2 linked regions of the Homo sapiens genome follow. The protein of the gene in region 2 interacts with the protein of the main gene of each other region in a pairwise test. Each region holds a gene or a part of one and is shown on either strand. Other genes may lie near its edges. The genes, in order: BCCIP and FCF1.

The links.
Region 1: the proteins of FCF1 (region 2) and BCCIP interact in binary tests that used the Homo sapiens proteins (3 or more experiments, as listed by UniProt).

The regions. Positions count from the first base shown.
Region 1 is NC_000010.11:125,823,814-125,834,726, reverse strand, and holds part of BCCIP (BRCA2 and CDKN1A-interacting protein), read right to left. Parts: intron 8,137-10,913; coding exon 8,062-8,136; intron 7,170-8,061; coding exon 7,089-7,169; intron 4,166-7,088; coding exon 4,076-4,165; intron 3,308-4,075; coding exon 3,120-3,307; intron 956-3,119; coding exon 781-955; intron 1-780. UniProt on the Homo sapiens protein: During interphase, required for microtubule organizing and anchoring activities. During mitosis, required for the organization and stabilization of the spindle pole.
Region 2 is NC_000014.9:74,719,020-74,735,368, reverse strand, and holds part of FCF1 (rRNA-processing protein FCF1 homolog), read right to left. Parts: intron 12,098-16,349; coding exon 12,025-12,097; intron 2,639-12,024; coding exon 2,551-2,638; intron 1,294-2,550; coding exon 1,199-1,293; intron 488-1,198; coding exon 439-487; 3' UTR 1-438. UniProt on the Homo sapiens protein: Part of the small subunit (SSU) processome, first precursor of the small eukaryotic ribosomal subunit.

The sequences.
Region 1 (10,913 bases), on a different chromosome or scaffold from region 2:
CAATTTTCCTGCCTTAGCCTTCCGAGTAGCTGGGATTACAGGCATCTGCCACCATGCCCGGCTAATTTTTTTTTTTTTGTATTTTTAGTAGAGATGGGGTTTCTCCCTGTTGGCCAGGCTGGTCTTGAATTTCTGGCCTCAGGTGATCTGCCCGCCTCAGCTTCCCAAGGTGCTGGGATTACAGGTGTGCACCACCGCACCTGGCCCACTTCAAGATTTTTCAGAGGAAGAGAGGGTAAGAATATTCTCTGGTATATGGCTGTCCATCACAGTACAAGCTACCTTTATAGGAAAAAAATGCTGGAGATATCCCACCAGCAGGATGACATCCACGACTAAGGACACAGAGCAGCAGGGGTGCCCCAGCTTCCACACTGACCAGCTGTGTGATCGCAGGTAATTTCCCTCATTTCCCTATGCCTTAAAGTCCACATCTGTAAACCCCAGGCTAATGTCTACCTCTCCGCATGGTTTTAGAATGAAAGATTTCACAGGAAGCATATTATAAATGCCTAATCATTCTTAACAGGTTAATCACTTTTCTCCTCCTCCTCCTCATGCTCATAACCACAGTGCAGGCAAGGAGGCTGGTGCCTAGCCTCCTGAGTACCTACTATGCACCTGGCACTATGTTAGCTGCTAGGTCCTGTGGGGAAACAGAAAAACAGAGTAGCCACACTTGAAAGACTTGGACCTAAAGTGGGAGAACAATAAATCTTGATAAATCATTTTCAAGAAAATCCTTATTTACATCTAAACAAATAAGCAGGATAGTCTTACCTCATAGAAAAATTCTTCCTCTGCATTTGCAAACATTAACGCAGCTTTCTTTTTGTTGCTAGGTTTCTTTTTGGAATTGTTTTTTCCTGCTTCCACAAATGTCTTACTAATCAGAAGGTAAAAGTAGCACTTCCCACATGGCTTATTGGTTCTGTGTGCCCCCGCCAGTTCTTTCCTGCAAGGCACACACACAACATTTGTTTACCTGCTGGGTCAAGTGAAATCCATCAACAAACCAGAGCACAGAAAACCCGGTGAGGCATCTTCAGTGGGTTCTGCTGTGACGCAGGCATTCAATCTGAACACTTAGTCTACAGGAATGATTTTTATTTACATAATCAGTTGCATTTTAGATTATGTATTACTTTTTATAATACTATGATATATCTCTCAGATTATGCTGATTTGTGGATATATAGCAACTAACAGATCAGATGAGTCTCAAATTCACTCAATGTATCACTGCTCTGCCTGTGCATAAGTTAAAAATATATACGAATCTGAATTTTTGAATTTTTTAAAGCAATGAACATTTAACTGAAACACACAAAGGTATACAGCCACAACCAATGTCACTACAGCCTGTGACTACTACCACAGTCTCTAATTGCTAGAGTCTGGAACTAATTTCTGACATACTGCAGAAACTGCATAAACACACAACCTAAATTCTAGCAATGGAATCGCAACAAAGCCTTAATGTTTCTTCTTTCTGAAAATTAAACATAGCCTTGTGCATCTGGATGCCCTTGAACAAAAGAAGAAACTCAGAACAACCGTCCTCTTCAGCTTTCCTTTTTTTTTTTTTTCTTTTTTTCGTTTGGAGACAAAATCTCACTCTGTTGCCCAGGCTGTAGAGTACAATGGCACAATCTCGGCTCACTGCAACCTCTGCCTGCCAGGTTCACACGATTTTCGTGCCTAAGCCTCCTGAGTAGCTGGGATTACAGGTCTGCACCACCATACCCGGCTAATTTTTTGTGGGTGTATTTTTAGTAGAATTGGGGTTTCGCCATGTTGGCCAGGCTGGTCTCAAACTCCTAGCCTCAAGTGATCTGCCAGCTTCGGCCTCCCAAAGTGTTGGAATTACAAGTGTCAGCCACCACACCTGGCCTTTTCAAAAAAAAAAAAAGAAAAAAAAAAAGATAGGGTCTTGTAATTTTGCCCAGGCTGGCGTGCAGTGGCTATTCACAGGCACAATCATAGTATATTGCAGCCTGGAACTCCTGGCCTCAAGCATTCCCCCTGCCTCAGCCTCCTGAGTAGCTGCGACTACAGGCGTGCACCACTGCGCTTGGCTCACTTCAGCTTTAACAGGACTAGGAGAAAGCAAATCACCCTCCTATAAAACCAAATAAATGTGAGCTCCAGCTGATCAGAAAAAAAGAAAACCAAAAAAAAACAAAAACCACTTAAGGCACCAGAAGCACAATCTGAGCTACAGCTGAGAGAGCAGGGAGCAGGAGATAAGAAGCATCGAATCCCTAGGAAAAAACAGCAAACGTAAAGGTTTCCAGAGTAGAGTTGCATTCCTACAGCTATTTAAAGGAAAACCACAACGCAAGGGCTATGACCTCTGAGAAAGAATATTCTATAAAGAACCTGTCTAGGTCAAGTGCTGTGACTGACACCTGTAATCCCAACACTGGGAGGCCGAGGCAGGAAGATCACTTTAGCCTAGGAGTTCAAGACCAGCCTGGGCAATGTAGCAAGACCCTGTCTCTACCAAAAAAAAAAAAAAATTTAAATTAGATAGAAATAAATAAGAGAATCTGCCTATATTTTGTCCTCTGTTGCAAAGCACAGACAATACAATTCTTAGTACACTCAGTTTGCTAGATTTCACAGCTACATTTGAAATATTTTTGTAAACTTAAAACTTCTGGATTAAAAAATAGAATAACAAAAACCCTGAAAAGCTAGCCACAGTATCAGGACTATGGTTTCATTTGTTATGAAACATACCAATAGAATTTGGGAACTTTACCAGTTTTGTTATTGTTGTAATTGTTCATTATTTTATTCATGTTGCAGAAAGCTATCTGTGAAGGTGAAAAACTTCAATCAAATGGGGATGCAAAGTCTATATGAAATTATCTACTTATATATCACTTAAATCTTAAGTTAAAATTTCATGATTATTGTCACAAACTCTTCAAAAAGCCAGTTGTTAATAATGTATGTACTTCACAGGATGTTTCTTCCACTCCCCTCACACTAAACCCACTTAAACCAAGGACAGAACTCTTTCTATATCTACATATTCTACTTAAATGACATTTAGGAATCTATTTGAAAAAAAAATTACTGTTCAAAGATATTTTCCCAGAATCTCTTACTGAAGCTGCTGGTACATGGGCAGAGCGATCTGTGGAGGGACATTAATGAATCTTTCACTTAGGAGAAGGCCCACAGGCTTGGTGGTGTCATTTAAAAACTTGTCCAGCTGTTCAACCATGCTCTTTTCACAGTTCTTCTCACAGAAGCGTAGAACCAACTCTTGAATTTGTTCAACACACTGGGTACCCTAGAAAGCAAAGAGAAAGCTTGTTTCCTATTACAAGCCATCACATAGAGGACAAAACCTGAGAGTAAAAGCTATCACTTTTCATCTTACAGCTAAGGGCAGTTTCCTGCCATAGCCTTAACGTCTTGTATGTCTTCAGTGTTGACTGCTTAAGCATTTCTCAAAAGTAAATACACTGGTTATTTACCATCCCATGATGAGTGGTAAGAGAGTCATAATTAACATTCAGACACACTGGAATGGCAACTCTAGTCCATCTCATAAAGATAGATGGAAGTAACTGGACAGTTTATTTCAAAATTAAAGACTAAGTGTAGCCTGCATCTTATTCTGAGGTGGGTAAGCAGCTGGTTTACTTTTTATTACAACTCATCAGAGAATCAATAAAAAGAGATGAATCGAAACAAAATAAAATGTCAGTAAATGCCCTCAACATTGAGGCAGCAAAGCCTGAGAATATCCCCACTACACAAGTAGCAAAGATAACAGCTGCAGAGAGACAGCACAAACAGCTCCTGCATCAGTACCAACATCAGGACTGCAAAGCCAGATGATTCCCTAAACCACAGGGAGTAAACAACTTTAACTGGGTACAGACCCAACACCACCACCTTCATATTGAAAAAGGATTACAATAAGATTTCACAAGAGCACTTATCCCTATAGTTAATATCACTGTTTAACATAAAAGACATTTTCACCATGCATTAAATAAAAGTGGTTTTGGCCTAAGAAATAACCATTCAGATGCCATCCAGTGAAACCAACCTTTCTTTCAGTTAAATTTAAAAGGCTTATGAAACCAAAAACCTCATCTTCATCCATATCATCATTGCTGTCTTCTGAAACATCCGTTTGCTATTTTAAAAGAAAAAATATTTAAATGTTATATTTAGTATAATACCAAGAGTATAAAACCAAGTCTTGGGATGTAGGCCTCATTTATCTTTTCACTTTTCAAAAGCAAAACTTTGTTTTACCACCGCCATCTTAGAAAGCATTGTATTTTAAATACTGTCACAGTTTTACCACCATCATCTTGGAAAGCATTGTATCTTAAATACTGTGTGACCTTGTTCATTTCGCTTTACCTCGACTCTGTTCCTCTTTTCAGATTCTGAACAGATTGAAATTTCTTTGTACCAGATTAAGTCATTTTCTTTTATCAGATTCTCAATATAATACAAATCCAGAAGAGATAAACCTCATGAAATAAAGCATTTTCATTTGTTTTCTACACAATTAGGCTGGAGCCAAGCCTTGCTTCTCTGCTGGCCCACAGCATTGTTTCATCTAAAACTCATGAGTTTCCAGAACACTTGTCAGTCTTGACCATTAGTGAAGCTAGGCAATGCTTGAGGGCCACTTACACCTATCACATTAGCAAGAGAGAAGGGGAAAAAAGAGAACCCCCTGCCCTTTGTTCTATGATCCTAGGGACTGGCTCCACCGAACACTATGGGTAGTCCCTTTACTAAGAACAAGAAGTCTCTATCCTCAGGACACCTCAAGTGTCTCTGGAGAATCCCAAGAAGCCACAGTTACAACTGCAGAGCTATTGATGTGATTATCCATTTAAAGAGTGAATCCTGCCATTAGATAATAACCTCTTTCAAGGATAAAAATAACTGCTTCTCCTCCATATCCATTAGGTCTTCTAAGACACGAATCAGCTAGAGATCACATTTATTTGATGAAAGGGCAGGTGGTCTGCTTTTTCCCATTGCCCTAATAAAAGGAATGCCCCATAGGTTTAATTTCTCATTTTCTTTACATTGAGTGCCATAAAGTTACTAATATTGTCAGAAGCCTTGAAAAGTGTACACTGTATTTAGTAACAAGTATGTTGGTGACCCTATCACTCAGTGTCCGAATTTTAGTGGTGTAAAAGTCAGATAAGAGTGTCTGAAGAATGAATAGGAGGACAGGAAGTAGAAACCATGACTTAAGATTACTTTTCAAGAATTTTGGCTCTGAAGGTGATGTACTTAAGAGTGGAACATTAGACTGAATGGAGCTTTTGTTTGTTGTGTTTTTCACAACAGGCTAGGGAACAGGTGCTAGGAACAGGAAAAAGACATCAACAGTGACAGCTACACATATGTAGCACATGTCAGCTGCCAGACACTGTTTTAAGCAGTCAGCAATTCATTTTGTTTACCCATGCACTCTACAAGATCGGTGCTAGTACCATCCTCATTTTCAGAGACAGAAATGGAAACAGATTAAGGTACTGTGGCAGACTGTATCTTTCACAGATGGCCCCAATGGATCTCTCCTTGGACATGCTCTTCTGACAAAGTGACCTAGGTACTTTTCTCATGGAGTGGTGGGATCAATGTGCCCTCCCCCTAGATAGAAATTTCTATCTGTAAAGACTAAGCAAATGGTGGAAATGGCACTATATCACTTCTGCCTGCTTCTTTTGGGCAGCTTGCTCTTGGAAGCAAACCAATGTGTGACGAGGCCCACATGGAGAAGAACTAAGGCCCCTGGTCCAGAGTCCCAGCTAAGCTCCCGACAGACAGCTAGGGCTAACTTGCCAGTCATGTGAGTGAGCCATCTTGAAAGGGAATCCTCCAGCCCCTAGTCAAGCCACCCCAGCTAACATGATGGAGCAGGAGCACAGATGAGTTGTGCCCACTGAGCTCTGTCCAAACTGTAGATCCATTAGCCAAATAAATGACTACTGCTATTTTACGACACTAAGCTATGGGGTGGTTTGTTATACAAACAACAGATAACCCAAAGAACCACCAGATGATAAGCAGCAGACCCAGGGTCTAAACCAGTCCTTATTTTGTTGAGCTCTCTACAACATCTATCTGATAAAGATGACCATCCCCTCCTCCTTCAAATGTTATCTTTCTTGCTGTGTATGACATCACTGCACTATTGTTTCTTCTACTTCTCCTGTCATCCCTTTTAATCTCCTTTGCTGGCTCTGCCACTTATATTACTCATCGAAGTATTCTTGGTATTACTAAGGTGTCTGTCCCTTCCCTCCCTGCGCAATCTCAATCACTTCTACGACCTCAGTAACATTTACGACCAACTCCCAAGTCTCCAGGGCTCCACCTGCTACCCGGTATCTCACAGGTAACTCAAACTCAAAATGTACAAATCCAAATTCACATTCCCCCTCCTAATTTGACCTTCCTCCATGTTTGTTATCCTGTTTGCTCAAGCTAGAAACCTGGAAGTCATCCTTGACTCCTTTTCCTCTCACTTTCAGACCCAATCAGGGACTAAACCTCATCATATTTCATCTCCCAAATATTTTCTAAATGAGCCCACTTCTCTCCCTCTCCATTGCCCCCACCTGGACTACTGCATTTAATAAGCTTGGATTTCTGCAATGACTTCTGATCAGTCTCCATTCCTCCAGTAATACTGCTTCCAATTTGAGCTAAACAGAATAAAGAACTTTTTTTTTTTTTTTTTTTTTTTTTCAGATATAGGGTCTTGCTGTGTTGCCCGGCTAGAGTGCAGCGGCACAAAGCTCACCATGGCCTTCAACTTCTTGGCTCAAGAGATCCTCCTACCTCAGCCACCTGGGTAAAAAGACTACAGGCATGTGCTACTATGCCCGGCTAATTTTTTGTTATTTTTTGTAGAGACAGAGTATTGCTATATTGCCCAGGATGGTCTTGAACTCCTGGCCTCAAGCAATCCTCCCACCTTTGCTTCCCAAAGTGCTGGGATTACAAGCATGGTGAGGCCCAGCATGAACAGAATAAAGAACTCATTTAATCAGAATAAACACAATTATCCTACTTACCTTAATCACACTCCCAATATGGTTCTGTTGAATTAAGAGATCTGTTAGTTCTGCAGTGTTCACAGGAGCCTTTAGAAAAAGCTAAAAGGAGGAAAAAATTATTTTAAATTAAGATCAAAGCATGATTTCTAATAACTTCAAATCCTATATTCAAATACAAACAATGAAATTTCTGTGACTTAAGATGATGATCTAGAAAAGCAACCCCAAGAGGGAAAGAAAAGCCCAGGAGAGTCAAAGAAGCTAAAGATTAGGAAATTTCAGAAAAGAAGAAGTCAGTAGTAATATAGAAGTAATGGGGGAGGGGGAGAAAAAAGGGAGAAACGAGAGAGGATAAACTTAAGGCCAAAGAATTTGGTGAAAAAGACGGTAGAGCTATAAAGGCTAAAGAACCAAAGTCATATTATATGAGTAAAAGAATAAGGAGAAGCAGCAAGCATCAATTTTATAGCACCAAACAGCACAGTTATATGACTGTTACATAAGAATTGTGAATTAAAAAAAAAAACAAAATAACTCTAATTAGCAGATGAAAGGAAATAATTCTTCCTTCCAGGCAAGGTGGAGAGGATAGAAATGGAAATTCTAAAAAGATGAACTTGGGAGAGCCTGTATTGAATGACCTGAATTTTCTTTTTTTTTAGAGACAGAGGCTCACTCTGTTGCCCAGACTGGAGCTCAATGGCACATTCATAGCTGCAGCCTTGAGCTCTTAGACTCAAGTAATCCTCCAGCCTCAGCCTCCTGAGGAGTTAGGACTAACGGTGTGTGCTACCACAGTTGGCTAATTTTTAATTTTTTTGTAGAGACAGGTTCTCATTATGTTGCCCAGGCTGGTCTCAAACTCCTGGGCTCAAGCAATCCTCTCACCTCGGCCTTCCAAAATGCTGAGATTATAGGCATGAACCACTGCACCCGGCCCCTGATTTTTCTTAGAAGAGGAAATTTATGCATAATAAATAAAAGACAATACCTGCTGCAGTAATTTCTTAATTCCGTCATAATCATTATCTGATAGGGAATAAGCTTCAAATTCAATATTCACTTCCTGTAAATAACACACAAAATAGTTGTTACCAGAAAAACTACAAACATCTAGACTTTAAAACAGGCAAACATTGCCAAGATTGCCATCTGTGAAGAATACAAAGCACCTTCACACTATTTCTTCAGGTGACACAAAAGCCTGAGAAAACAAAACACTCAGAGTAACCTAGTTTAAATGTTGAGAAAGTCCAGTTCAAATAAACCAGACACGGCAGCCACAAAGGATAAATTATTTTCCTGATTACAAGGGTGGGCAAAAATCAAAATCACTTCAAAAGTCCCTGGAATTGCCTAGAGCTTGACTTAGCCCATGGATTTGAGGTTACACTACATTTGCTTAGCAAATATTTATTAAGTATCAATCCAGGTACCAAGCACTGTGCCAGGCACTCAAGATGAAAAGGTTAGTAAGGCAGACACAAATGATCCTGCTCTCGTGCAGCTTACGATTTAGGAAGGAATATAGGCATTAAGGAAATATTCATAGAAATAAATGTAAGTGCTATAAAACAAAGGTACACAATGTTGTAACAACTTAAAAAATAAGAAGTCAGTCAGGAAAGCCTTCCTTGAAGTGACATTTGAGCAAGAAACCGAGAAACAGCAAAGAGAGTTCCTGGTACAGGGAACAGCACAAACTAAGGCCCTAAGGCAGAAGGAAATACAATGAGTACAAGGGACTAGAAGAATGAATGTGTAGCTGGGCTCCCTGATCTCTATCTGCAAGACAACAGAATCTAGAAGATGGAACTAAAATGCCAAAAACAAAACCTAGTTGCTTTTAAACACTAACAAGATTAGTCCTTGAGGACCCTAAATCAGACCTTGATAAGTGACACAATGAACCTGGGGCTCTGATGAAATAATATATTTAAAGGCACTTCAGGTTTTAACGGTTTCAGAATTTAGGTCTTAGCTGAAGAACATCGCAGAGGAAATCAGACCTCCTTTTACCTTGCCACCCTGACTATGTATATATTTAAGTCTTCCTTAATTGTAAAATTGCAAGGCCCTGGAATTGCTTAGAGCAATTCCAGCTCCAATTTGAACTCTTTAAGTCCAGCTTTGCAGACTTCAAATGCTAACTTAGCCAGATTATGTGAGCAGCAAAACACAAGGGGTCGGGTGGGAGTGTTCCAAACAGGATCAAACTAAACCAAATAACAAACTGTCATTATTCAGGACTTAAACTTATTCCTTAGATATAAATACATTCTGTAAATAATGCTCATCTAGTGTTTTTTTCTTTGTCTAGACAGACATCTCGGACCTCTGTCCCAGACTATTATGGCACCACCAGGGAAATGGGCGGCAAATGGATTATCTGTCCAGCACCCTTTTCCTGGGTATGGGCTCATCTCCACATGGCTTCAGCAGGAACAGTCACGTTTGTAGAAAAGAGCCCTGTCCCTCATTCCCAGGTGATTTAGAATTAAGACTGTGGTGGTGTGATAGATTTCCCATGTTAACACAAGCAGCATTGATTTCTATAACCCAAAAGTAATAAAAGAGCCAGTCAAAGTTCTAAGTGAAAAATGGTGAGATGGCATTCAAGGCATAGAGCCAAAGTAAAATTTGTAAGGGAAGGAAGATTGATCACATACCCACACCATGGTGTCACCTCTAATCCTGCATCCATGCTTCTCTCCATGCTCCCCTCCATGCTCATCATGACTCATGATTACCTCTCTGATTTTATTTCCTATCACTCTCTCTTCCTTATTCTGATCCAGCCATCTAGGCTGCCTTTCCGTCCCTCAATTGTGAAGACTCTTGATTTTCTTGTAAATGAACTAGAAAGCCAATGCAGCAATCTAAGCAGAGGCCTGAGATCAGACCTATAAGATCTCTCTGACTGTAAGTGGAGTATAGACTGATTGTAGGGGAACAAAAATGGAGAAAAGAACGCCGGTTAAAAGCTGTTACATTAAATAGTAGTCCAGGCAAGAGATGATAGAGGTGTGGACTACGATGGTCTCAGAATTAGTGCTGAGAAATGTCTGGATAACAGGATTTACTGATGGGCTGGATATAGGATGAGGAAAGGGAGGAATTAAAGTTAAGCCCCAGGTTTTGGGTTAGAGCAGCTGGTGACTTTAGGGGCCATTTATAGAAATGGTGACGATTAAGAGAGGGGCATGAATTATTATACAAATTCTGCTTTGGACAAGTTAAGGCTGAGGTATCTATTTAAACATTCAGTAGGCTGAAGGATCATTCAGTCCTAATTGTTTACTAAACAAATAATAAGTACCTATATTGCCAGGCACTACGGTAGGACCTAGTCTGAAGAAAGGAACACAGTTCTATGAGACTATGAAACCAAAGATTTACCCACGACTTGGTCAGCTGCCCCAGGAGCCAGAAAATACAGCCTAGCTGAGATCTGAAGAAGGAAGGGAAAACTGCAGGATAAAGAAGAGCATTTGAAAAGGCTTCTACGGTAGAACGCGGCAAGAGCCTTCAAGAAACTGAGGGCCCAAGTGAGTGCCGCCCGCAGAGTGAAGAGGAGGACAGCTGCTGCCCCGAGGGGAGAGGGCCCCCTCTGCGAGCCCGGGGTGGCCGATTCAGGATCTGAGGCTTCAGCCTGAGAACTAAAGAGGACGAGAAGAACACACCTGTTGTGGCGGGCTTTTTCGGGGAGGACGCGGGTTGGGAGATTAACTGGACCGGACTAGACCTTTAAAAAATAACTACTATGGCTGCAGTGTGTTAAAGACCGAGGAGAAACCTGAGAAAGAACTTATCTCCAGTTTCTCCTCACAGACCCTCAGGGTC
Region 2 (16,349 bases):
GTGGCTAGTGAGCCTTATCTCTCCTCCTTTCCCAGGCATTGTAAATACCCTGTTTCTCTAGCTGTGCAGCTGCAAGGTAACTAGACAGATAAACTCAAGTCGTAAAACATGATTTTCCTTGAAAAGTAAGAAATGATGTAATGCATGTCTCAGTTAATTGAATAACTGTCTTTCTTGCTTCTGTAATATGCTTCCCCCTGCACAGATTCCCCCCAACCCCCGCGGCCCCACAAAATGCTTAAAAGGTAACTTAACTCTGTTCAGGGTTCAGTCCTTTGGATGTTAATCTGACTGGGCTGGTGCACCTAAATAATAAATATCTCCCTGAACTCCATCAGTCTCTCTGATTCCTTAAAAATCCCGCTACATTTTGTGTAATGAACTGGCAACAAGAGAAAGTTGGTCGAAGAAAGGCAGAGGAACTGTGTCTTGTAAGAATTAGAATCGAGGGGCTCCATAATCATCTGGCATCCGTTCAATGTTGTATCTGATCAGGACAAAAAATCAACACCGGTAAGAAAGATGGGAAGAGAACCCATCTAAAAACCCATCCTTTATAGACTGCAATACTCTCACCCCCACTGTGAATCCTTTTTGTCAGTGGAAACAATTTAGGGGAACATCATAATGAATGATTTACAGCAAAATGCTGACTATAATACAATATGATTGTTTTTTCAAAGTCACAAAGTCAGCAAGAGGGGAACTGAGGAGCTGAGATCAGTAAGTCCAACTTCTTAGTCCACAGACTTCCCACCACATTGTGCTCTCCTCAAGCTGAAAAGCTGGAAAATAAGTCTGAGTACTGACAAAAAATAGCCAAGAAGGATAACAGCTTTTTTTTTTTTTAAATAAGCTTTCCATTTCTCAGATGAAGTGTTAATAAAAAAAAATCTTTCAAAACAGGTATTTCTGGCCAAAAAGATTAGCTTGATTTAAATTACTGCTTTTATTTAAAACAATACGTCTATTTCTTCCAGTAATCTTACTCTAACAATTTAAATGTTTGCCTCATTCCTTAAATCCTATCTCTCTCTTTTGCTCTTGCTCTTGCTTTGTCTCATTTCTTCAAATATAACTATGTAAACATTTGATACAATAATTTCTTTCAAATCCTTTATAACCTTATCACTTATCCTCATTTTCAATTGATATCAATTATATATTTCTATTCCCTTCTCCAAGGGAAATTTCTCACCTATGGTTAGAAATGTACATGATAGGAACTCCAGGAATCTTACGGATTCTTCTTTTCAGGTCCCGGTCAACTGTGGCCACAATGTAACACTTATGCTGTAAGAGACATGGAGTGATGTTCACACTGAGGTCACTGAGCACGCTTAGTGAATACTGGATAATGGCACAACGACTGACCAGTCTGAGAATCGTTCATTTTCACAGTAAGTAGCGAAGGGCAGGCTATAACAATTTGTTGAGTACCTACTATGATCTAGGAGCTCCTAATCTTGTTATATAAAATAAACAAGTTGCCTGGGCTGAATGCAGCATTTAGAATCTTGAGGAGGAGAAGGTAGAAAACTTTTCACAAGCTGCAAACTGTTTTCTGCTCATAAATGAAAGGGACTTTCACACTTGGGGCAGACAATTCTTTAGTTTTGGGAAAATGCTCCGAGGAACTCCATGGAGATAAAAAGTGCCTTAATTTGGAGGCCATAGCTCCCTCCTTTCCCTAGATCTTGGGGCTTGGGTGTGCTCTGGGCCTACTGATGTTAGAGGTAAGCTATCCCCGAAACAGGAAGCCTAAGTAGGATATTCAGGGCCTGAAACTAGAGCCTAGCAGTTATAAAAGCAGTAATATTTAGCTGTCAGGTGAAAGCTATTTTATAGGAAGCTTCACATCTGTCACGTCTGACTCTCCTACTGAGTTTTATAAAAAGTGGCAGAGTGGTGTCAGCTGTGCTGTGGGAAATACTGGCCCCACCCACCCGCCCCATGGGGTGAAGTGGCTAAAAGGATGGCTCTGTGGTCAGCAGAGCAGATGAAGATTATCATCAGCAGAGAGGCCCTTATAAAAGCACTCAGTAGCAGAAGTCCTTGTGGTGCTTAATGAAGGAATTAAAAACCTACTTATTCTAGGGTATGTGTGAAACAGCATCTTGGGAGACTCTCAGATTTAACTAAGAAGCACTTTTGGATTAGGCATCGTGAAGAGGAACAAAATTCCTACATCAAAAATAAATGGGTTCTACATTAACTCACTTAAAATCATTTTACAGAGATTTGTGAGATAAAGAATCAGTTAAATGTCCCAAATCACACAGCCAGTAAATGCAGGTGCTGAGACGTGAAACCCATGTCTCCTCCCCAAGCCTGTGCTCTTTCCATTATGGTTAGAGTGTACATTTTCAATCCACTTTCTCAAGTAAATGAAGACACCTATGCTTCTTATGAAGGAATGCTATGCAATTTTTTTTTAATTTAACCATAATGTATATTCCTAGATGTTTTACTGACCATGAACATTCAGGAGATAATAGTTTACATTTTTTTTTTTTAAGCACAAAGTAAACAGTTATGAACTGATAATACCTGAGTTACTCTCTGTACTAAGCAGTCATCTGCATAGGTTCCTTTGTGTGTACATGGTAATCGTTCAAATCTTGGATCCTTGGCAATCCTGTAGGTGGATTAAAGAAAACATTCAATCAGCTGGATAACTTTCTGAGTCTTAATTAATGCAATAAAAGTAACATGATCTATGCAGAGATTTTAAGGCACTGTTCTCCTCCTGAACTTTATCCTCTAACTGGAAAGACAATTCACGGGGCAGGGAATGAAGGCTGACAGCTAGTGTGCTTTGGGTCATTTAATCATTACAAAACTTTGAGTTATTATATATCTATTCTACAGATGAGGAAGTAGGCTTAGAGAGATTAAATTACTTCATTCAAAGCTATACAGCTGGGAAAAGCCAGGATTCAAAAACAAAACCCATTTTAACCTAACCATTTCACTTTTAAGAAGTTGTCTTAAACACAATGAACAAGAATATAGGCAGAAGGATGATCACTCAACACAGTTTATAGTAAGTGAAGAAAATAAAAATATCCTTTAGAAAGGTAAAAGTTAAACCCATTTTGGTGCCCTTATCCTATTAATAAAAAGTGAGGTAGAGCTGTACGTACCAATGTGGAAGGACCTACACTAAACTGTTGAATAAACAAAGCAGGGCATATGCATATATATATATATAATATGATTTAATTAATAAAATACAAATCCTTCTTTCCAATACTCTTTATTTAGATTTGCATTTGCACAGAAAAAGGTCTGAAAAAATATATTAACCTTTGTCAGTTGTCACTCTTGGGGTATGAGAATGGACAAAGTATGAATGTAGAGGCAGACTTTTACCTTTTACTATATGTATATGCTTGTATTGTTTGCCATAAAACACTCAAACATGTATTATTTTCATACATATTTGAAAAAGAAAAACCCCAACTCTGTGTGATTCTGAGAGCCATGCTCTTTCTATTAACAGTGATGATGAGTCACTGAAATGAAGAAAAATACAAGACAGCACATATGTACCAAGTGCAACACAAATACTCCTCCATATTGCAGTAGTTCAGCGCTAGGTCAATGTGGGTTGGGAATATTTAGAAAAAAATGACATGGGGTGAAATAAGATTAAAGAATGTGCCAAGCAATGTGAGGGTACCAAATAGGACACCAGCCAACTGTAAAATGGTTTCTTGGTATTTGGGGAAGAGTAAACACATCTTTCTGGCTGGGGGCAGAGTGTTTGTGGAGAGAAGAATGAAATGGGGCTAGAAAGAGTCTCCAATGCCAGGCTGACGAGTGTGATGACACAGGTAATGAGGAGTCATTAAAGATTTCTGGGGGACAAAGTGATAAGAACAAAGCTCTGTCTTGGAAAAACTAAGCAGGCTGTGCTGGGGAGGATACACTAGAGGGAGGATGGACTGGTTGCTGACAAACTAGGTGGGCAACAGTCTAGGACTATGCTCTTTCAGTTATCTCTTTACTCCTGAAATCACTTGTCTCCTCTCTACTAGCTCTTTCCTAGAAACATACTAACATGCTGTCATATATTCTCTGCCTTAAGACAAAAAAATCTTTTTACCTATACCCCCCTCCAGCTAACACCCCATTTCTGCATCTCTTGACAGCCAAACTTAGTGTTTCCACTTGGTGCCTCTATTTTTTCCCCTCTCATTCTTTATTTTTATTGTTTTAAAAATTACCAGGCTGGGTGTGGAGGATCATGACTACAATCCCAGCACTTTAGGAGGCCAAAGCAGGAAGATCACTTGAGGCCAGGAGTTTGAGACCAGCTGGGCAACATAGTGAGACCCTATCTCTACTAAATTTTTTTTTTTTTTGGAGATGGGGTCTCATTCTGTCACCCAGACTGGAGTGCATTGGCACAATCCCAGCTCACTGCAACCTCTGCTCCCGGGTTCAAGCGATTCTCCTGCTTCAGCCTCCTGAGTAGCTGGGATTACAGGCATGCGCCACCATGCCCAGCTAATTTTGTATTTTTAGGAGAGACGGGGTTTCACCATGTTAGCCAGGCTGGTCTAGAACTCCCGACCTCAGATGATCTGCCTACCTCAGCCTCCCAAAGTGCTAGGATTACAGGCGTTAGCCACTGCACCCAGCCTTTTTGAGATGGAGTCTTGCTCTGTTGCCTAGGCTGGATGCAGTGGCATGATCTTGGCTCATTGCAGCCTCTGCCTCCCAGCCTCAAGCAATTCTCCTGCCTCAGCATCCCTAGTAGCTGGGATTATAGGTGCCTGCCACCACCCCCAGCTAATTTTTGTATTTTTAGCAGAGATGAGGTTTCACCACATTGGTCAGACTGGTCTTGAACTCCTAGCCTCAGGTGATCTGCCCGCCACAGCCTTCCTAAGTGCCAGGATTACAGACGTGAACCACCATGCCCAGTCTCTACCAAAAAAATTTTTTTTTAAAATTAGCCATGCAAAAGAAAAAAAATAATCAGACATGCATAGTGGTATGCACCTGTAGTCCCAGCTACTTGGGAGGCCAAAGCAGGAGGATCACTTGAGCCGGAGAGGTCAAGGCTGCAGTGAGCTGTGATAGCATCACTGCACTCCAGCCTGGGCGACAGAGTGAGAATCTGTCTTTAAAAAAAAAAAAAAAAAAAAAAAGCATATACACATATCTATAAACAATGCAGTATTGGTTTGCATGTTTTTAGACTTTAGATAAATGGTATACTCCACATATGTTCTTGCTTTTTCATAGACATCTACAGAACTCTCCACCCCAAATCAACAGAATATACATTTTTTTCAGCACCACACCACACCTATTCCAAAATTGACCACATACTTGGAAGTAAAGCTCTCCTCAGCAAATATAAAAGAACAGAAATTATAACAAACTGTCTCTCAGACCACAGTGCAATCAAACTAGAACTCAGGATTAAGAATCTCACTCAAAACCGCACAACTACATGGAAACTGAACAACCTGCTCCTGAATGACTACTGGGTACATAACGAAATGAAGGCAGAAATAAATATGTTCTTTGAAACCAACGAGAACAAAGACACAACATACCAGAATCTCTGGGACGCATTCAAAGCAGTGTGTAGAGGGAAATTTATAGCACTAAATGCCCACAAGAGAAAGCAGGAAAGATCGAAAATTGACACCCTAACATCACAATTAAAAGAACTAGAAAAACAAGAGCAAACGCATTCAAAAGCTAGCAGAAGTCAAGAAATAACTAAAATCAGAGCAGGACTGAAGGAAATAGAGACACAAAAAACCCTTCAAAAAATTAATGAATCCAGGAGCTGGTTTTTTGAAACGATCAACAAAACTGATAAACCGCTACCAAGACTAATAAAGAAAAAAAGACAGAAGAATCAAATAGACGCAATAAAAAATGATAAAGGGGATATCATCACCGATCCCACAGAAATACAAACTACCATCAGAGAATACTACAAACACCTCTACGCAAATAAACTAGAAAATCTAGAAGAAATGGATAAATTCCTCGACACATACACTCTCCCAAGACTAAACCAGGAAGAAGTTGAATCTCTGAATAGACCAATAACAGGAGCTGAAATTGTGGCAATAATCAATAGCTTACCAACCAAAAAGAGTCCAGGACCAGATGGATTCACAGCCGAATTCTACCACAGGTACAAGGAGGAACTGGTACCATTCCTTCTGAAACTATTCCAATCAACAGAAAAAGAGGGAATACTCCCTAACTCATTTTATGAGGCCAGCATCATCCTGATACCAAAGCCGGGCAGAGACACAACCAAAAAAGAGAATTTTAGACCAATATCCTTGATGAACACTGATGCAAAAATCCTCAATAAAATACGGGAAAATCAAATCCAGCAGCACATCAAAAAGCTTATCCACCATGATCAAGTGGGCTTCATCCCTGGGATGCAAGGCTGGTTCAATATATGCAAATCAATAAATGTAATCCAGCATATAAACAGAACCAAAGACAAAAACCACATGATTATCTCAATAGATGCAGAAAAGGCCTTTGGCAAAAGTCAACATCGCTTCATGCTAAAAACTCTCAATAAATTAGGTATTGATGGGACGTATTTCAAAATAATAAGAGCTATCTATGACAAACCCATAGCCAATATCATACTGAATGGGCAAAAACTGGCAGCATTCCCTTTGAAAACTGGCACAAGACAGGGATGCCCTCTCTCACCACTCCTATTCAACATAGTGTTGGAAGTTCTGGCCAGGGCAATTAGGCAGGAGAAGGAAATAAAGGGTATTCAATTAGGAAAAGAGGAAGTCAAATTGTCCGTTTGCAGACGACATGATTGTATATCTAGAAAACCCCATTGTCTCAGCCCAAAATCTCCTTAAGCTGATAAGCAACTTCAGCAAAGTCTCAGGATACAAAATCAATGTAAAAAATCACAAGCATTCTTATACACCAACAACAGACAAACAGAGAGCCAAATCATGAGTGAACTCCCATTCACAATTGCTTCAAAGAGAATAAAATACCTAGGAATCCAACTTACAAGGGATGTGAAGGACCTCTTCAAGGAGAATTACAAACCACTGCTCAATGAAATAAAAGAGGACACAAACAAATGGAAGAACATTCCATGCTCATGGATAGGAAGAATCAATATCGTGAAAATGGCCATACTGCCCAAGGTAATTTATAGATTCAATACCATCCCCATCAAGCTACCAATGACTTTCTTCACATAATTGGAAAAAACTACTTTAAAGTTCATATGGAGCCAAAAAAGAGCCCACATCGCCAAGTCAATCCTAAGCCAAAAGAACAAAGCTGGAGGCATCACACTACCTGACTTCAAACTATACTACAAGGCTACAGTAACCAAAACAGCATGGTACTGGTACCAAAACAGAAATATAGATCAATGAAACGGAACAGAGCCCTCAGAAATAACGCCGCATATCTACAACTATCTGATCTTTGACAAACCTGAGAAAAGCAATGGGGAAAGGATTCCCTATTTAATAAATGGTGCTGGGAAAACTGGCTAGCCATATGTAGAAAGCTGAAACTGGATCCCTTTCTTACACTTTATACAAAAATCAATTCAAGATGGATTAAAGACTTAAACGTTAGACCTAAAACCATAAAAACCCTAAAAGAAAACCTAGGCTTTACCATTCAGGACATAGGCATGGGCAAGGACTTCATGTCTAAAACACCAAAAGCAATGGCAACAAAAGCCAAAATTGACAAATGGGATCTAATTAAACTCAAGAGCTTCTGCACAGCAAAAGAAACTACCATCAGAGTGAACAGGCAACCTACAAAATGGGAGAAAATTTTCGCAACCTACTCATCTGACAAAGGGCTAATATTCAGAATCTACAATGAACTCAAACAAATTTACAAGAAAAAAACAAACAACCCCATCAAAAAGTGGGCGAAGGACATGAACAGACACTACTCAAAAGAAGACATTTATGCAGCCAAAAAACACATGAAAAAATGCTCACCATCACTGGCCATCAGAGAAATGCAAATCAAAACCACAATGAGATACCATCTCACACCAGTTAGAATGGCAATCATTAAAAAGTCAGGAAACAACAGGTGCTGGAGAGGATGTGGAGAAATAGGAACACTTTTACACTGTTGGCAGGACTGTAAACTAGTTCAACCATTGTGGAAGTCAGTGTGGTGATTCCTCAGGGATCTAGAACTAGAAATACCATTTGACCCAGCCATCCCATTACTGGATATATACCCAAAGGACTATAAATCATGCTGCTATAAAGGCACATGCACATGTATGTTTATTGTGGCATTATTCACAATAGTAAAGACTTGGAACCAACCCAAATGTCCAACAATGATAGACTGGATTAAGAAAATGTGGCACATATACACCATGGAATACTATGCAGCCATAAAAAATGATGAGTTCACGTCCTTTGTAGGGACATGGATGAAATTGGAAATCATCATTCTCAGTAAACTATCACAAGAACAAAAAACCAAACACCGCATATTCTCACTCATAGGTGGGAACTGAACAATGAGAACACATGGACACAGGAAGGGGAACATCACACTCTGGGGCCTGTTGTGGGGTGGGGGGAGGAGGGAGGGATAGCATTGCGAGATATACCTAATGCTAGATGACGAGTTAGTGGGTGCAGCGCACCAGCATGGCACATGTATACATATGTAACTAACCTGCACATTGTGCACATGTACCCTAAAACTTAAAGTATAATAAAAAAAAAAAAAAAGAGATGGGGGTCTTGTTGTCCAGGCTGGCTTGAAACTCCTAGGCTCAGGTGATCCTTCTGCCTCAGCCTCCCAAGTAACTGGAACTACAGATGTGCGTTAACAGTGCTCAGCATTGTTCTTTTTCTTTTTTTTTGAGACAGGGTCTCGCTGTCTCCCAGGCTAGAATGCAGTGGTATGATCTCGAACCTCCCTGGCTCAAGCAATCCTCCTACCTCAGCCTCCCAAGTAGCTGGGAATACAAGTACATGCCACCATGCCTGGCTAATTTTAAAATGTTTCATAGACATTGGGTCTCACTATGTTGCCCAGGCTGGTCTCAAACTCCTGGGCTCAAGGAATCCTCCTGCTTCGGGCTCCCAATACTGCTGGGATTACAGGAGTGAGCCACAGTGCCTGACTGCTGTTGTTTTTTTTTTATAGTTTATATTGTTTTTGAGATTTATCCACATTGGCGCATAACTCTAGTTCACTCATCTTCACTCTTGTATAGTATTTTATTCATGAGCATTCCACAGCTTATCTATTCTTTTCTTTCTTTTTTAAAGAGACAAGGTCTCACTTTGTTTTTGGGGCTGGAGTGGAGTGGTGTGATCATAGCTCACTGCAACCTTGAACTCCGTAGAGGCACAAGCCACCATGCCTGGCTAATTTTCTTTTTTTTTTTTTTGAGATGGAGTCTCGCTCTGTCACCCAGGCTGGAGTGCAGTGGCGCGATCTCGGCTCACTGCAAGCTCCGCCTCCCGGGTTCATGCTATTCTCCTGCCTCAGCCTCCCCAGCAGCTGGGACTACCAGGCGCCCACTACCACGCTTGGCTAATTTTTTTGTATTTTTAGTAGAGACAGGGTTTCACCGTGTTAGCCAGGATGGTCTCGATCTCCTGACCTCGTGATCCACCCGCCTCGGCCTCCCAAAGTGCTGGGATTACAGGCGTGAGCCACTGCGCCTGGCTGGCCGCCCGGCAAATTTTTAAAGTTTTGTAGAGCCAGGGTCTCATTATGTTGGCCAGGCTGGTCTCAAACTCCTGGGCTCCAGCGATCCTCCCCACTTGGCCTCACGAAGTGTTGGGAATTATACGTGAGCTTCTGTACCCAGTTTTTTTTTTTTTTTTTTTTTTTTTTTTTGGAGACAGGGTCTTGCTTTGTAGCCCAGGCTGGAGTACAGTGGCATGACCTCAGCTCACTGAAACCTCCGCCTCCTGGGCTCAAATGATTCTCCTGCCTCAGCCTCCAGAGTAGCTGGGAATATGGGCACCCGCCACCATGCCTGGCTAATTTTCATATTTTAGTAGAGACAGGGTTTCACCATGTTGAGGATCACTCCTGACCTCAAATGATCTGCCTGCCTCGGCCTCCCAAAGTTCTGGGATTACAGGCATGAGCCACCATGCCTGGCCATCCTTTATGGCTTAAGAAAAGCCATTTCTTCTGGCTGTCTGCAATTTTTTGCTATTACGTACATAAGAAGATGCCAATACTTGACTCCAATAGTAGCTGAACTTCTCTATAGCAATCTTTTTCTTTCTTTTTTTTTTTACCAGAACCCATAGCACGAGATAGATTTTATCTAGCGTACAGTATGCACACATATACCACATATACATATACACACATATAACAGCGAAAAAAGTTTTGTGAAGCAGTACCCAATTTTTTCTACATATTCATGCTAATATTTTATAATTTCTTTCTTTTTTTTTTGAGACAGAGTCTCACTCTATCACCCAGGCTAAAGTGCAGTGGCACCATCTCAGCTCACTGCTACCTCTGCCTCCTGGGCTCAAGCAATCTTCCCACCTCAGCCTCCCGAATAGCTGAGACTACAGGTGTATGCCACCACACCTGGTTAATTTTTTTACTTTTTGTGGAGACAGGGTTTCACCATGATGCCCAGGCTGGACTGGAAATCCTAGGCTGAAACAATCCACTTGCCTCAGCCTCCCAAGGTGTTGGGATTACAGGCATGAGCCACCGTGCCCAGCCTATAGTTTCTTCTGTTACACTAAAAAATATACTCGGGGGTTGGGTGTGGTGGCTCATGCCTATAATCCCAGCACTTTGAGAGGCCAAGGTGGGAGGATCACTTGAGCCCAGGAGTTCAAGACTAGCCTGGGCAACATGGTGAGACCTCATCTCTACTGAAATTTTAAAAAACTGGCCATGTGAGGTGTTGCATGCCTGTAGTCCCAGCTACTTGAGGGTGCTGAGGCAGGAGGACTGCTTAAGCCCAGGAGGTCGAGGCTGCAGTGAGCCCTGATTGTGCCACTGCACTCCAGCCTGGGTGACAGAGCAACACCTTGCTTCAAAAACAGAACAAAACAAAACACAAAAAACCCCCCAAACCCACCAGGCATTGTGATCCTTTAAACCAATTTAATTACCTGTAGAATGTGATCTCCAGGTTAAAAGACTGTGTTGTAAGAGTATGAACAACCTGGATTTTACCAGATATTGTCAAGTTGCCCTCCAAAGTGATGACCAATTTATACCCTTAGTAGTTCAGTATGAGAATTCCCATTGCTTCATGGTCTTAACTATTCTTGGCATTGTCAAGCTCATTAAAAAATTTTTGCCAATCTAATGGGCACTAAATGACAACTCACTGTGAATTTAAGAATTATGTTTTTCTTACAGATGTGAAGTTCTTTATGCATTTTGAAAATAAGCCCTTTGTTGATTATGTATGTCTGTTTACTTTGTTAATGATATCTTTTGCTATACACAAATATTCAATTTCATTAAGATATTCTCTGTATTTTCTCTTTTTTTTTTTTTTTGAGACAGAGTTTTGCTCTTGTTGCCCAGGCTGGAGTGCAATGGCGTGATGTAGGCTCACTGCAACCTCCGCCTCCTAGGTTCAAGCGATTCTCCTGCTTAAGCCTCCCAAGTAGCTGGGATTACAGGCACCTGCCACCACAGCCGGCTAATTTTGTATTTTTAGAAGAGATAGGGTTTCTCCATGTTGGTCAGGCTGGTCTCGGACTCCTGACCTCAGGTGATCTGCCTGCCTCGGCCTCCCAAAGTGCTGGGATTACAGGCCACCGAGCCCGGACAAGATATTCTCTGTATTTTCTATTAAAAGTTTAGACACTCTAACTGGAACTGATTTTTGTGTGAGAGAAAGACCAAAACAACCCCCCCAAAAATGATAAATAGTTTTGTATGATTTTCACAACTAACTGGCCAAGAAATCTTTAAACAACAAACAGATGAATCTTCAGTATACCAATCTAGAACAGATCTAGTTTACCTCCTTCCTACCTTAGAGCCACTCGATACTTCTGCCCCAATTTCTCAATTTCAGCCATTACACAATCGGTTATACATGGGATACCTGCCAGGGAAAAAAATTCACATTAAGAACAGAACTTGTAACGAAATTATCTCTGAATTATATCCCTGCTCAGAGTTTTAAAAAGACCCAGGACACTTTTGCAATGACAGCAGAATTAGCACACTGAAATATACAAGAAGAACTAGAGTAGAAGAAAACCCTAAGAAACTAAGATTGTCCCAACCCCAAACTGCAGATTCCCTGTTATAAACATATCTGGGGAAAAAAAACTAAGCTGAACTCTGTCATTATTTTTATATTAATGTAAGTTCCTGATGGGAAAAAAATTATTTATTTTTATTATTTTTTTGAGACAGAGTCTTGCTCTGTTGCCCAGGCTGGAGCGCAGTGGCACGATCTCAACTCACTGCAGCCTCAAACTCCTGGGTTCTAGTTATCCTCCTGGGTTCTAATGATTCTCCCACCTCAGCCTCCCGAGTAGCGAGGACCACAGGTACGCACCACTATGCCCAGCTAATTAAAAAAAAACATTTTTTTTTTGTAGAGATGGGGCTTTGCCATGTTGCCCAGGCTGTCTTGAACTCCTGGGATCAATCATTCCTCCTGTCTTGGGCTCCCAAAGTGCTGGGATTACAGGTGTGAGCCACTGTGCCTGGCTCAGATGAAATAAAATTTAAATGTGAACCACAAGAAACCATGAAATTAGCCAGATAATGTAAATCTGATCACATAAAAATTTTAAAAACTTCTGTTTGACAACTATCAAACAGAAAGCCATATAATAGTTTAAAAAAAAATCATCATCCCTATTTTATAGGTGAGGAACCTGAGACACAAAGAAGTTAACTAAATAGATAGCAAATGGTAAAGCCAACATTTGAACGGAGTCTATTGGGCCAAAGACTGGGAAGAGTGGCACCTAGAAGAGTGGCAAAGATTAAACAGATGAAAATATCCAATATTGGCCGGGCGTAGTGGCTCACGCCTATAATCCCAGCACTTTGGGAGGCTGAGGCAGGCGGATCACCTGAGGTCAGGAGTTCGAGACCAGCCTGGCCAACATGGTGAAACCCGTCTCTACTAAAAATAAAAAAAATAGCTGGGCATGGTGTTGGGCACCTGTAATCCCAGTTACTTGGGAGGCTGAGGCAGGAGGATCAGTTCAACCCAGCAGATGGAGGTTGCAATGAGCCAAGATCGTGCCATTGCACTCTAGCCTGAGTGACAAGAGTGAAACTCCATCTCAAAAAAAAAAAAAAAAAAGAAAATACCCAATATTGAGGAAACAAGTATTCTCATACTAAGTTTGTAGGTATATACATTGGTACAACTATTTGAGGGCAAATTTGCAATACCTATTAAAAATACACAAATCCCTTGATACATAATACAGCTTCCAGACAATGTATCCTAAAGAAATACACTCTTAGGGAGACATATTCATAAGGATATTTACTACAGACTTGTTAATTGGGTAGAACCTGGAAATAACCAAAATACCTAATAAGATACTGGGTTTAAAAAATTATGTATTTAAACAATAGAATAGTATGTAACTTTACACCTGATCTTAGCCAAAAGGCTGAGAAGCAATTATAGTATGTAACTTTATTCATTCTTTATTTTTTTTTGAAGTCTCACTTTGTTGCCCAGGCTGGAGTGCAGTGGCGTAATCTCTGCCTCCCAGGTTCAAGCGATTCTCCTGCCTCAGCCTCCCAAGTAGCTGGGATTACAGGCGCCCTCCACCACGCCCAGCTAATTTTTGTAGTTTTAGTAAAGACAAGGTTTCACCATGTTGGTCAGGCTGGTTTCGAACTCCTGACCTGAAGCAATCCACCTGCCTCGAACTCCCAAAATGATGGGATTATAGGCGTGAGCCACCGTGCCCGGCCATACATAACTTTAAAAAAGAATTCCTGGCCAACATGGCAAAACCCCATCTCTACTAAAAATATAAAAATTAGGGCTGGGTGTGGTGGCTCATGCCCGTAATCTCAGCACTTTGGGAGGCCAAGGCAGGCAGGTCACCTGAGGTCAGGAGTTCAAGACCAGTCTGGTCAACATGGTGAAACCTCATCTCTACTAAAAATACAAAAAAATTAGCTGGGCGTGGTGGCACATGCCTGTAGTCCCAGATACTCAGGAGGCTGAGGCAGGAGAATCACTTGAAGCCTGGAGGCAGAGGTTGCAGTGAGCCGATATTGCACCACTGCACTCCAACCCGGGTAACAGAGTGAGGCTCTGTCTCAAAAAAAAAAAAAAAAAATTAGGTGGGTGTGGTGGAACACACCTGCAATCCCGGCTACTGGGAGGCTGAGGCATGAGAATTGCTTGAACCCGGGAGGCAGAGGCTGTAGTGAGCTGAGATTACACCACTGCACTCCAGCCTGGGTGACAGAGTGACAGCCTGTCTCAAAAAAAAAAAAAAAAACAAACCCCAAAAACTTGGGCAACATGATTGATACCTTGTTTCTACAAAACATAAATAAATAAAATAGCCAGGCATGGTGGCTCTTTCCAGTAGTCTCAGCTACTTGGGAGGCTGTGGCTGCAGGATCACTTGAGACCTGGAGGTTGAGGCTGCTGTAAGCTATTGGCTCAGACCACTGCATTCCAGCTTGGATGACATAGCAAGACCTTGACTCAAAATAAAAGAATGAGGCCCATTTATATATACATGCCATGGAAAAATGTTCAAAATATATAGTTCAATGTAAAAAGCAAGTAGAAATGATTAAAATGTGATCTATCCATACAGTGGAATATTATTTAGTAATAAAAAGAAATGAAGTACTGATACAAACTGTAATATAAATGATCCTTGAAAACAGTACGTTAAATGAAAAAGGACCAAATATTATAAGATTCTATTTTTATGAAATGTCCAGAATAGGGAAATTTATAGAAACAGAAAGTAGATTAGTGGTTGCCTAGAAATAGAGAGAATGGTGAGGGTTGCAGGGTGATGGCTAAGGGTCTCCAGGTTTCTTCCTGGGATAATGGAAGTTCTAAAATTGACTATGGTGATGGATGATGCACAACTCTGTGAATCCACTAGAAGTCACTGAACTGTACACTTTAAAGGGATGAATTGTATAGTTGTAAAGGGAGTCAATTATATTTCAGTAAATCTGTTTTATAAAGCAAAAAATAATACAGGATCCATTTTCTTTTTTTATTTTTTTGAGACGGAGTTTCGCTCTTGCAATGGCACGATCTTGGCTCACTGCAATTTCTGCCTCTGGGGTTCAAGCGATTTTCCTGCATCAGCCTCCCGAGTAGCTGGAATTATAGGGACCTGCCACCACGCCCGGCTAATTTTTTTTGGATTTTTAGTAGAGACAGAGTTTTGCCATGTTGGCCATGCTGGTCTTGAACTCCAGACCTCAGGTAGTCCGCGTGCTTCGGCCTCCCAAAGTGCTGGGATTACAGGCCATTTTCATTAATAAATAAAAGTAACCCTCCATCTCACACAGATTTATGAATTTTTATAATTGCTCCTTTGAGGAAATGCATTATAAGCAACTTCCTTTTTTTCCCCCTTTTGAGACAGGTTCTTGTTCCGTCACCCAGGCTGGAGGGCAGTGACATGGACATAGCTCAGTGCAGCCTCGACCTCCCAGGCTTAAGTGATCCTCCCACCTCAGCCTCCCAAGCAGCTGGGACCATAGACATGCTCCACCATGCTCAGCTAATTTTTGTGGTTTCTTTTGGTAGAGATAGGGTTTTGCCATGTTGGCCAGGCTGGTCTCAAACTCCTGGGCTCAAGCAATCCACCCACCTTGGCCTCCCAAAGCGTTGGGATTACAGGCATGAGCCACCATGCCCAGCTTGATTTAAAAAAAATTTTTTTTGTAGAGATGCGGTCACACCATGTTGCCCAGGCTGGTCTTGAACTCCTGAGCTCAAGCCCAGAACTCCTCCCACCTCGGCCTCCCAAACTGCTGGGACTACGGGGTGAAGATCTCGCCCAGCCCAACTTTCTTTTCTTCTTCTTCTTCTTTTTTTTTTTTTTAAAGACAGGGTCTTGCTCTGTTGCCTGGGCTGGAGTGTAGTGGCATAATCACAATTCACTGTAGCCTCAGCCTCCCAGGCTCAAGTGATCCTCCCACCTGAGCATCTGTAGCTAGGACCACAGGTGCATGCCACGATGCATGCTTTTTTTTTTTTTTTTTTTTTTTGAGACAGAGTCTCGCTCTCTCACCCAGGCTGGAGTGCAGTGGCACGATCTCGGCTCACTGTAGCCTCTGCCTCCCAGGTTCCAGAGATTCTCTTCCCTCAGCCTCACAGG